2 separate regions of the Homo sapiens genome follow, and region 1 is linked to region 2. Evidence: fine-mapped expression QTL. A gene starts in region 2. The other region holds a variant in brackets. All regions are shown on one strand. Distances are from middle to middle. Region 1 overlaps RUSC2 (RUN and SH3 domain containing 2). Region 2 holds the start of CIMIP2B (ciliary microtubule inner protein 2B).

The links. PIP is the estimated chance that this variant, and not a neighbour inherited with it, causes the effect.
Region 1: its variant is the best candidate, but not a certain one, in a credible set for the expression of CIMIP2B in nasal epithelium (TOPMed, PIP 0.66).

What each region holds. Positions count from the first base shown.
Region 1 is chr9:35,539,234-35,544,611 of GRCh38, reverse strand. All of the region lies in intron 1 of RUSC2 (RUN and SH3 domain containing 2), which reads right to left. Among named protein-coding and RNA genes, the nearest start is that of CIMIP2B, 22 kb to the left of the region's middle. The variant T/C (reference allele first, on the strand shown) is at 2,872.
Region 2 is chr9:35,561,575-35,566,952 of GRCh38, reverse strand. CIMIP2B (ciliary microtubule inner protein 2B) reads left to right here and starts at 3,075. Exons shown (of 6, transcript NM_001164310.3): 1 at 3,075-3,186; 2 at 3,564-3,787; 3 at 3,873-4,078; 4 at 4,253-4,304; 5 at 4,379-4,573; 6 at 4,858-5,122. The coding sequence starts at 3,125. The coding sequence ends at 4,946. It overlaps RUSC2 (RUN and SH3 domain containing 2), which reads right to left. Exons shown (of 12, transcript NM_014806.5): 12 at 5,058-5,378.

The sequences.
Region 1 (5,378 bases), 22 kb after region 2:
ATACGAGGCTGGGCACAGTGGCTCACGCCCGTAATCCTAACACTTTGGGAGGCCGAGGTGGGAGAATCATGAGGTCAGGAGACAGAGACCATCCTGGCCGACATGGTGAAATCCCATCTCTACTAAAAATATAAAAATTAGCTGGGCGTGGTAGTGCATGCCTGTAATCCCAGCTACTTGGGAGGCTGAGGCAGGAGAATCGCTTGAACTAGAGAGTCAGAGGTTGCAGTGAGCTGAGATCATGCCACAGCACTCCAGCCTGGTGACAGAGTGAGACTCTGTCTCAAAAAAAAAAAAAAAAAAAGACATATGATCCAGTTTAAGACAGGGCAAACAGTATGAATAGGCATTTCTCTGAAGAAGACATACAAGTGTCTAACCAGCACATGAAAAGATGTTCAACATCATTAGTCATTAGAGTAATAAAAATCACAATGAGATACTACTTCACTCCAGCTGGGAGGGATAAAATAAGAAATACAGACAATAACAACTAGCAAATGTTGATGATGATATGAAGAAACTGGAACCCTGAAACATTGCCGGGAGTATTGTAAAATGGTGCAGCTACTTTGGAAAAGTCTGACAGTTTATCAAAATGTTAAACATAGTGTCATCACATGACCCAGCAACTGCACTCCTGGGTATATACCCAAGAAAAATGAAAACATATGTTCACACTAAAGCTTGTACACAAATGTTCATAACAGCATTATTCACAGTAGCCAAAAAATTGGGCACAATCGAAGCCAGTCACAAAGGGCTTTTGTGATGTTGTATGATTCCATTTATATGAAATGTCCAGAATAGGCAAATCCATAGAAATAGAATGTCCTGAAATCAGGCCAGGCGTGGTGGCTCATGCCTGTAATCCCAGCACTTTGGGAGGCTGAGGCGGGCGGATCATTTGAGGTCAAGAGTTCAAGACCAGCCTGGCCAACATGGTGAAGCCCTGTCTCTACTAAAAATACAAAAATTAGCCAGGTGTTTGTCACCATTTTTGTAAATAAACATGTCTGTATGCATAGAAGAAAATCTGTAACATGCAACAAACTGTTACCAGTGCCTATCACTGTTGAATGATTTGGATTATTTTTAATTTTATTCTTTTTGCTTCAGCTGTATTTTCTAATTTGTATGTAATAAATACCCATTTTATGCATAATTTAAGCAATTTTTTTCTTTTTTTTGAGACAGGTTCTCACTCTATCACCGAGGCTGGAGTGCAGTGGTGCGATCATGGCTCACTGCAGCCTCAGCCTCTTGGACTCAAGTGATCCACCTCAGCCTCCTGAGTAGCTAGGACCACAGGTGTGTGCCACCACGCCTGGCTAATTTCTGTATTTTTTGTAGAGACATGGTTTCTCCATGTTGCCAAGGCTGGTCTTGAACTCTTGGGCTCAAGTTATCCACCTGCCTTGGCCTTCCAAAGTGCTAGGATTACAGATGTGAGCCACCATGCCGGGCCTAAACAATTTTTTTTCTTTGAGGGGGTTTCTCCTTTCATACATAACTACGTTTCCCCTGGAGTCCTGGCCATAATCCCGAGTCTGGACTAAAAGGAGCATAGAGAACTTTCTTACATAGATAGCAGTAATTTTAGGGGTACCTATGGGTTGCAGCCATCACTGACCTTCAATGAGTACCTTTTCTTCCTTTTTAAAGCATTTTCAAGAGGCATTCACAAGTATCACATAAAAGAATGTATGATTCTGCCACAAAACCATTACCAGGACATACATGCATTAATATGGAAAAACTGATGTACAGATACAGAATGCAGAAAGCTGACTCTCTAAATCAGAGATGAAGAACACATGAGCGTGGGAGATGACGGAGCCCTTGGCTGGAGGGCACTGACAATTGTATTGTAATGTGATGTTGACATATCTATCTCCCAGACTGGAGCACAGTTCTGAGGTTGGAGACTGCAATACAGTGAACTCTGTGCTTGGAACACAGTAGGTGCCTGGTTATTTGTTGACTACTTTTCCCATTAAAATAACCTGAGTTGTTAGTCTTTTTATGATTGAATTATAGGAGTTTTAACATTTATTCTGGATACAAGTCCTCTGTCAGATATATGCCTCATGAATATTTTCTCTCAGCCTGTGGCTTGTCCCTGTTTTCTTAACTGTGTTTTTTGATAAATAGTTTTTAATTTATTAAATTTAAATTGATCAATTGATCAACTGATCATAGAGTTTGTTTCTCTATGGTTAAATCTTTCTGTATCCTAAGAAATCTTTACCTGTCCTAAGACCATAAAGAAATGTACCTATGTTTTCTTCTAAAAGCTGTATAGTTGTAGCTTTTACATTTAGGTTGTATTGAATCCTACTTTAACTGTCAAGCTCTTTCACTGATTGATTTCATTTTATTTTATGCTTTTGTATCTCAGAGAAGATCTTATTCCTTTCTGATCTCCACACAACCAAGAGAAAGGCCGAGCAATGGCTCCTCCATAGACGATTCCAATTCAGCCATCTAAGGGGAAGTTCTCCAGGCATCTCATGAGATTTTGTACTCATGCTTTGCCCACCCCATTCACATTTACTTACAAGGCACTTTTTATGTATGCATATCTTACTGATCCTTACATCAACTTCCAAAGGAGGCAGAGCCATCTTCATTTTTAAAAATAAGGAATTATTTTTATATTTATAAAATTTTAAAAAATGTTATATGATATAAAAATAATTTAAAAAAATTTTATATATATAAAAATTTTAAAATAATTATACACCCAGAAAAATGAAATGACTTGCCCAAGACCACTCAGTGAATAAATAACAGAATTAAGATGAGACTCAGGAATCCTAACTTTTGATCTTTTTTCTTGGTCAGTTAAGAATATAATGAGAGTAGACC[T/C]AGCATGGGGGCTCACACCTGTAATCCCAGCACTTTGGGAGGCTGAGGCAGGTGGATCATGAGGTCAAGAGATTGAGAACATCCTGGCCAACATGGTGAAACCCTGTCTTTACTGAAAATACAAAAATTAGCTGGGTGTGGTGGCACGCTCCTGTAATCCCAGCTACTTGGGAGGCTGAGGCAGGAGAATTACTTGAACCCAGGAGGCGGAGGTTGCAGTGAGCCGAGATCGTGCCACTGCACTCCAGCCTGGGCGACAAAGCGAGAGTCTGTCTTAAAAAAAAAAAATGAGAGTAAACTGTACATATGACACCACAGAGAACATTTACTGAGAGCGTATCTCAGGCTCCTTTCCTGGGAGTGACTTTTTCTACATCAAGACAAGTGGCCCATCCCCTCTAATGAAGGTGAAGAGAAAACAGTGAGCTGGAAGAGCTCATTTCAGACTTTTTCTGCCCTGACTAAATGGAGAGACATGGAAGATGAGGATGGGGGAGAAACAGAGGATCCAGAATAAGAAGAAAGTAGAAGACAGCTCTTTCAGAAGATGAGCCCTCTAGCTATGCCTACCAGGTAGAGTGGAATGGTGGGCTCAGCCAGTATAAAGTTATGAGGTCATGCTCTCCAAAATCAGGAAAAGCTTTCTATGAGAGCCCTTTTCCTGGCCCTTGTCCCAAATGGGTGTCTCTTGTCCTATTATAATACTATAAGTGATCATTTATTAAACACTTATGTGCCATTAATTTATATATATCATCTCTAAATGTACTGTAACATTTTTAAGTAGGCATAATCCTTCCCATTGTAAAGATGAGAAAACCAAAGCTTAGAGTGTGTAAGTAGTTTGTCCACATTTACACATCTGAGATGGGATTCAATCCCAGGTCTGCCCAATTTGTAATTATTTCCACTACAACGGCCTTCCAAAGAAAATGATTGGGGCCACACCCTCTTCCTAAAGTCCTTGCAATTACTCTGCTCCCAGAGCATCTGCTTCCTACCTGTCCTGGGTAGACCCACATTTCAGCCTCCATTTACACAGGTTATGTCTACCGGCCTCTCTATTCTATGAACCTACAGTCCCTTTCATACTGTCCCCAGGCTATGATAACACTTGCCAATCCCACCTCCTGCCCCAGTTCCCAGCCCTCATCTCCCTGCCCCATTCATGGTCTCAAGGCTCATTATTCCCTGCTCTTGTGGTTCACATTCCTAGACACTTCCTGGGAACAAATACACTCCCATAACTATCCAGCATATTCCTTAACCATATAGTTGCACAACATGGCACTACTGTCTCCTATTATCCTATGTTTTTGAACCCTCTACCAAGGTGGTTATTAGAAATGGGAATTTTTTTACAATTATTTTTTACAGACAGAGTCTAGCTTTGTTGCTTAGGCTACAGTGCAGTGATGCGATCATAGCTCACTGCACCTTGAACTCCTGGGCTCAAGTGATCCTCCCACCCAGCCTCCTTAGTAGCTGGGACTACAGGTGCACACCACAATGCCTGGCTAATTTTTAAATTTTTTGTAGAGACAGGGTTTCACCATGTTGCCCAGGCTGGTCTCAACTCCTAGGCTCAAGTGATCCTCCCATCCCAGCCTCTCAAAGTGCTGGGATTACAGGTGTGGAAATGGGAATTTAGGGAACTCTTTCTACCTGCTCAGCAATGGAGCAACTCTGGGCGGGAAAACCCCAGAAAGAAGGTTTCCTCTAGCTTTGGTCATCAGTGTCTTTCTGCCAGTCATAGAACCCCTTCCCTCTTTTTTGGCCTTCTGAATAAAGATGGGGAACACAATGGTCTTCAATTGCTCTTCTCTAGCAATCTGACCTTGACTTGAGATCCTGATAAGGTGCCTCTGTAGGACTGATAACGCTTTTCCTGACTGGTCCTCTCCTGGGTAGGATCAAAGGGAGGAGGGCAGGAGGGTAGATTTGGGAGTGTTAGCTTATGCTTAGGTCTCTTCTTGAAGGCTTACTGTAACAGATCAGGTGCCCTAGGCATTACAATGACTGTCCCTGCCCCTGCCAGACACTGTGGGGCACCCTGGTCAATGTTTTCTTACTCCACCCTTACCTGGAGCCTGGTGGCTCCCATAGCACCAGAAGATATGGTATGTGTGTCTATGTGCATGTATAGCTATGTGCATGCATGCATGCATGTATGTATGTATGTGTGTGTGTGGAGAGAAAGGTTTCCCAGCCCTCCTCTTGAAAGCTGCGAGGATCCTTGCATGTTCTCCATCATAAACTTACAGTAGCTGTAGGGGTGTCTCCTCCTATTAAGCCTTTGTTTCTAGATCTGACTCCCCCATCCCTGACCCATACTAGAAGCTTCATTAGAAATGCCCAAAAAGGAAGGATGAGATCTGCTTCTTGACAAAATAGCATAAATGGCATTAGCCCAAGCCTTGGCTTTTCCCCATCTCTGCACCATAGCCCAAATGTATGCAATGAGCTTGTCTAATGCTTGTGCTTCCGCATGTTCCCCCCTTTATCCC
Region 2 (5,378 bases):
TATTCAATTCTTGTTTCAATTTTGGTGGACTGTTGATTTCAGGAATTTTTTCAAAGGTCCTGTGATTTTCTTTTATTCATCCTTGCAGAGGGGATTTATGCTTGCCTAGGGTTGACATACAATCAAATGATTGATTTGGGATCTGTATGAAATTTTATAGCAGTTCCTGGTCAGAATCAAAGGCAGAACAGAAGGCTATAGGCTGCCATTGTGGGGACCCAGCAGGCTGTGTGGACTGAGTGGGGCGCTGTCTCCAGTTAAACATTTTCTCTCCACTGCCACATCCAACACTGGCCACTGGGTGTGGCAGCTCCCATCAGAGCAAGTTGTGGTCATGTTTCTGTGATGTCTGTCCCTGGAAGGAGGCACAGAGGCAGCAAGCATTCCTGTGGTGCCTCAGCTGGCCCCGTCACTCCTTTCTCAGATTAGAACACCCTTCAGGGATCTAGAAATATTCTTTATTCAGATGGAAACAATCATAGTAACAGGCCATTCTACCAATTGGATAGAGCTGTTTCTTCATAAGCCATAAACCTAAGACTAATCCTAATCTGTTTCCTAACTTGTGTTTTAACGCATACCCGGATTCTAACTGCCATGGTCTTTTCTGCAGAATGTGTTCTAGTCCCTACATCCTAATTTATACCCCAACTTCCATTCAAACCTTTCCCTTTTTCAATTTCATGAACCTTTCCCCTGAACCTCTAACATCTGTGACTGCTCCCAGCTCCTTTCCTTCCTCCCATTCCTGCCAAATGCTAGCCGTGAATTGCTGTTTAGTTAGCACTTACCGTAAGCTAGACGCTGGGGTCATTGCTCATTGTGTATCATCTCAGCTAGCTGATATCCTACTCTATGAGATGGTAACATTAGTTTTTCCATTTTACAGATGAGAAAACTGAGGCTCAATGAGATGAATTTGGACAAAGTCTATATCTCTGGTGAAGCTAGGATTTGATCTAGTGGTGTTTTTTTGTTTTGTTTTGTTTTTGAGACGGAGTCTCACTCTGTTGCCCAAGCTGGAGTGCAATGTGCGATCTCAGCTCACTGCAAGCTCCACCTCCTGGGTTCATGTGATTCTCCTGCCTCAACCTCCTGAGTAGCTGGGACTACAGGTGCCCACCACCACGCTTGGCTAATTTTTGTATTTTTAGTAGAGACAGGATTTCACTATGTTGGCCAGGCTGGTCTCGAACTCATGACCTTGTGATCCTCCTGCCTCGGCCTCCCAAAGTGCTGGGATTAAGGGTGTGAGCCACCGTGCCTGGCTGTTTTGTTTTTTAAAGTTATGATGCCTTTGGCTGTAAGTGAAAGAAAACTTAAAGTGGCCTTAATAATGAAATTTACTATTTGACATAAAAAGGCTGATTAATTCCATGGCTCTACATTACCCTCAGGACCCTGGCCTTTCTCCTCTACCATCCATCCTTGATGTGTCCAGGACTTGTCTTCAGGTTAGCTTTCCACAAGGCTTCCACATGCCTGCCAGCATTCCAGCCTCACATCCCCCAAAAGTCTAGGGGCAGGAATGGACATCGTTTCGTCTTGCGCATCTCTGTCTCTCTCACTTGCTCTAATTTGATGTGAATCTTTTCTTTAAGAGCAAAGAAACTTTTCCCAGGACCCTCCCCTGCCCCAGCAGATTTCCCCTCATATTATCCAGAATGCTGGAAGCCCGTGCCTAAGCGGTCATGGGGAAGGAGCATGGGACCACGCTTAGACTAATCCAGCTCATTCCTCCAGGCTGGCTCTCCAAGCCTCCCTGATGCAGTTTCTGGCTCCTCGGAAGAAAGGAGATGGGGGTCAGGAATAGGTATAAGCTGTGATAGTGTCTGTCACAGAATCCCAAGTCTGGTTGTTAAGCTTGACACACTGCTGCTATTCTGGGCTTGCCCCTCGGCTCCCATCCTCACTCTAACATATTTCCTCAGCTGTGAGGTAAGTCCCCACAACTCTAAATGACACATTCTAAGGCTGTCCTTGGCAGAACAGTGAGGAACATGAAATGTGTGCCTTGGAGCCCAGTGCTCTTATGTAATTCCCCTGGGATGTCAGTGCCGTCCTTGGTCAGCGCAGGCATGGTCACTGGAGGTGGGGAGAAGAGCAGAGCTCTGCCTCAGAAACGTGGGCCCTGAGCCCTCAGCCTGGCCCTGACCCAGCCCCAGAACTTTTTGTTTTGTTTTGTTTTTTGAGGTGGGGTCTGGCTGTGTTGCCCAGTTTGGACTGAAACTCCCGGACCCAAGTGATCCTCCCACCTCAGCCTCCTCAGTACGTTGATGTGAGCGTGGCTGCACCCGGCCCAGAGTTGGGTTTTAAACATGTTTCCCCGTCCTCTGAGATCTCATCTTCCTGGTCTGTGCTTTTTCTTCTCTTAGAATCCGAATTTTTTATTTTATTTTATTTTTTTAACAAATTCTAACTTGCTCCCTAGTGTTACCGCCCACACCTACAACAACTTTATCCTGTTTCCTTCCCTCAACCCCCACAGCTTTTCTGGCTCCCATGGAGTGCACACTCGGCCACTGTGGCCGGAGCCTGGCAGAGCCTGGCTCATTTGTTGAATGGATGACTCTGATTATAGCAGGTATTCAGTAAGCCACTCTTGTTAAATTATTGAAAATAAACGATGTTACTCCCTAGAGGTGTCTAGGTTCCTTTTTTTCCCCCATCACCTGTCCTCTTTCACCTCCCCTCTGGGCCCTGGCTTCCCTCAAAGATCCTTTCTCCAGGTCCCCCATCTCCTTTGATGAAGACTCATGAGGAACACAGTGTCCACCTCTCAGGCAGGCGCTCAGGAAGGAAGTCGCTGAGACAGAGCTCAGTGGCCCGAATGGTTTCTGCTCCCTCACCTCCCACGTCCCACCTCCCACGTCCCACCTCAGGGCTTCCTTCGGTTCGGGCCCTGCCCCACGAGCAGGACCACCTTTGTCCTGGACAGACAGACCTGCTAGCCTCTGCTCTACAGTTCTGCCGGCCTTCGCCCTGGCTGTCCTCACACGAGTGCCCCCTCCCTTCTCTCCTCCCTTAGCCCCGCCTCCTTCCTCTAGCCCCACAGCCCTGGACACGGTACACACAGACCAGAGCCTTGGCTCAAAGGCAAACAAAAGGAAATGCCCGGCTCCCCATGGCTGTGGCCAGCACCTTCATACCAGGGCTCAACCCTCAGAACCCTCATTATATCCCAGGGTAAGACTCCCACTTAGCGCTCCCCGCTTGCTGCTGGGAGTAGGGGTATAGGGTGGAGGAATTAAGCTGCTTAGAGCATGGGGCCAAGCGGACAGGTTGGTTTGGGAGGCTGAGGTCTCTATGGTGGTGGATGGAAAAGGAGAAGCAAGGGACTAGTGAGACACCGGGTCTGCCCCAAAGCTTTGTGTTGTTCTCTCCATGGGAACAGGGTAACAGCAGAGGAAGGATCGAAAGCCCAGGCAGAGAACTTAGAAATGCCTGCTCCAAATATATACACTGCTGAGTCCAGAAAGATCAGGGCTTCAGAGGTCTCCGCTTCTGCCTCTGGGGATGGCGGGGCAGGGCGATTCTGGTGAGTGGGAGAGTCTGTGCTGCAGGTACACTGGACACTGCCCACTACTTCGGTTCAGCGTGGGCCAGACCTATGGGCAGGTGACTGGTCAGCTACTTCGAGGCCCTCCTGGCCTAGCCTGGCCCCCTGTCCACCGCACACTTCTGCCTCCCATTCGGCCTCCAAGATCTCCTGAGGTTCCCAGGGAGAGTCTACCTGTCAGGCGTGGGCAAGAAAGGCTCAGCTCCAGCATGATCCCTGGGTACACAGGTTTGTACGCAGGTATGCACAGGTGCCCCTCCCAGGAGCATGTGTTCCAAACACTAACGAGTCTTCCTTGTCCCTGCCTGCCCAGGTTTTGTACCCCGGGCACAGTTCATCTTTGCCAAGAACTGCAGCCAGGTCTGGGCCGAGGCTCTGAGTGACTTTACTCACTTGCATGAAAAGCAAGGGAGTGAAGAGCTACCAAAGGAGGCCAAGGGAAGAAAGGACACAGAGAAGGACCAGGTGCCAGAGCCGGAGGGGCAGCTGGAGGAGCCGACACTGGAGGTGGTGGAACAAGTGAGACCAAGAAGCTGGTGGGGAGTGCAGAGGTGTGGGAGTGGGGGTCTTACTGTGTGTCCGGGCAGTGGGGGCAGCATGAGTAGTGTGGCTGTGGGTTCAGGGGATGTGCACTTGATTGTCAGCTCCACCTCCTTGGGAGATTGTGTGACAGCACAGGGGCTTCTCTCACAGGCTTCTCCCTACTCCATGGATGACAGGGACCCTCGGAAGTTCTTCATGTCAGGTGAGAGCTGGGGGGTCAGGATCAGAGGCGTGGGGAGGCCCCAGGATGCCTTGGCTCAGTGTCCCCATCCTCAGGCTTCACTGGCTATGTGCCCTGCGCCCGCTTCCTCTTCGGCTCCAGCTTTCCTGTGCTCACCAACCAGGCACTGCAGGAATTTGGGCAGAAGCACTCACCAGGCAGTGCCCAGGACCCCAAACATCTCCCCCCACTTCCCAGAACATACCCTCAGAACCTGGGTCTTTTACCTAACTATGGGGGCTACGTGCCAGGTGAGAAGAGCCCCCGGGGAGGCTTTGGGGACTGGAATGTTTGTTTGTATGGGTATGGGGTGGGTTGGGTGGTTTGTGGGGGTTGAAACTAATAGATATGGGAGGGCTCAGATCATGTGGTTCAGCTTTATTATCAGGCAGAAAAGGAAACCGAGGTAGCTACCCACAGTGGGGAATTAGGGCCAGATTTTAGAGGGCTGTTTGGAGGTCTAGCCAACTGGCTGAGAATTAAATGGCTTTGCCATGCCACTTGCTACATGTGACAGACTCTCTTGGCCACACAGGGTATAAGTTCCAGTTTGGCCACACATTTGGCCATCTCACCCATGATGCTCTGGGCCTCAGCACCTTCCAGAAGCAGCTCTTGGCTTAGGCCACTGGACATCAAGTTCCCTTCCCTTTTCATCCTATCCCAGCCATCCTTTTGGAAGGGAGAGAGGTGGGTGGGAGGGTGGGAGGGTGGGGGAACACAAAGAGAAAATGGTTTGGAGGCTGAGCACCTTTTTTATTAATAGGTATAATAAATAAATAAATAAATACATAAACAGACGCCTGGGCTCCTCCTCCCTCTTCTGATGACCAGGCACTGGCCACAGCCTATTTACAGCTGGGGGGCTTAGGGATCTGGCCCCAATACTGTTACCCATCCTCATCTCCACCTGGCCTAGGGAACCCTGTAGATGGCTTTCTGGGCCACCCGCCTCCAGGGGGACTTGCTTGTCTTCACCCATGGAAGGGTTGGCCCAGACGGGCCAGGGGAATCCTGGCAGCCCAGTGCTGTGTCCCATCCCTCTCCTGGGTGGAG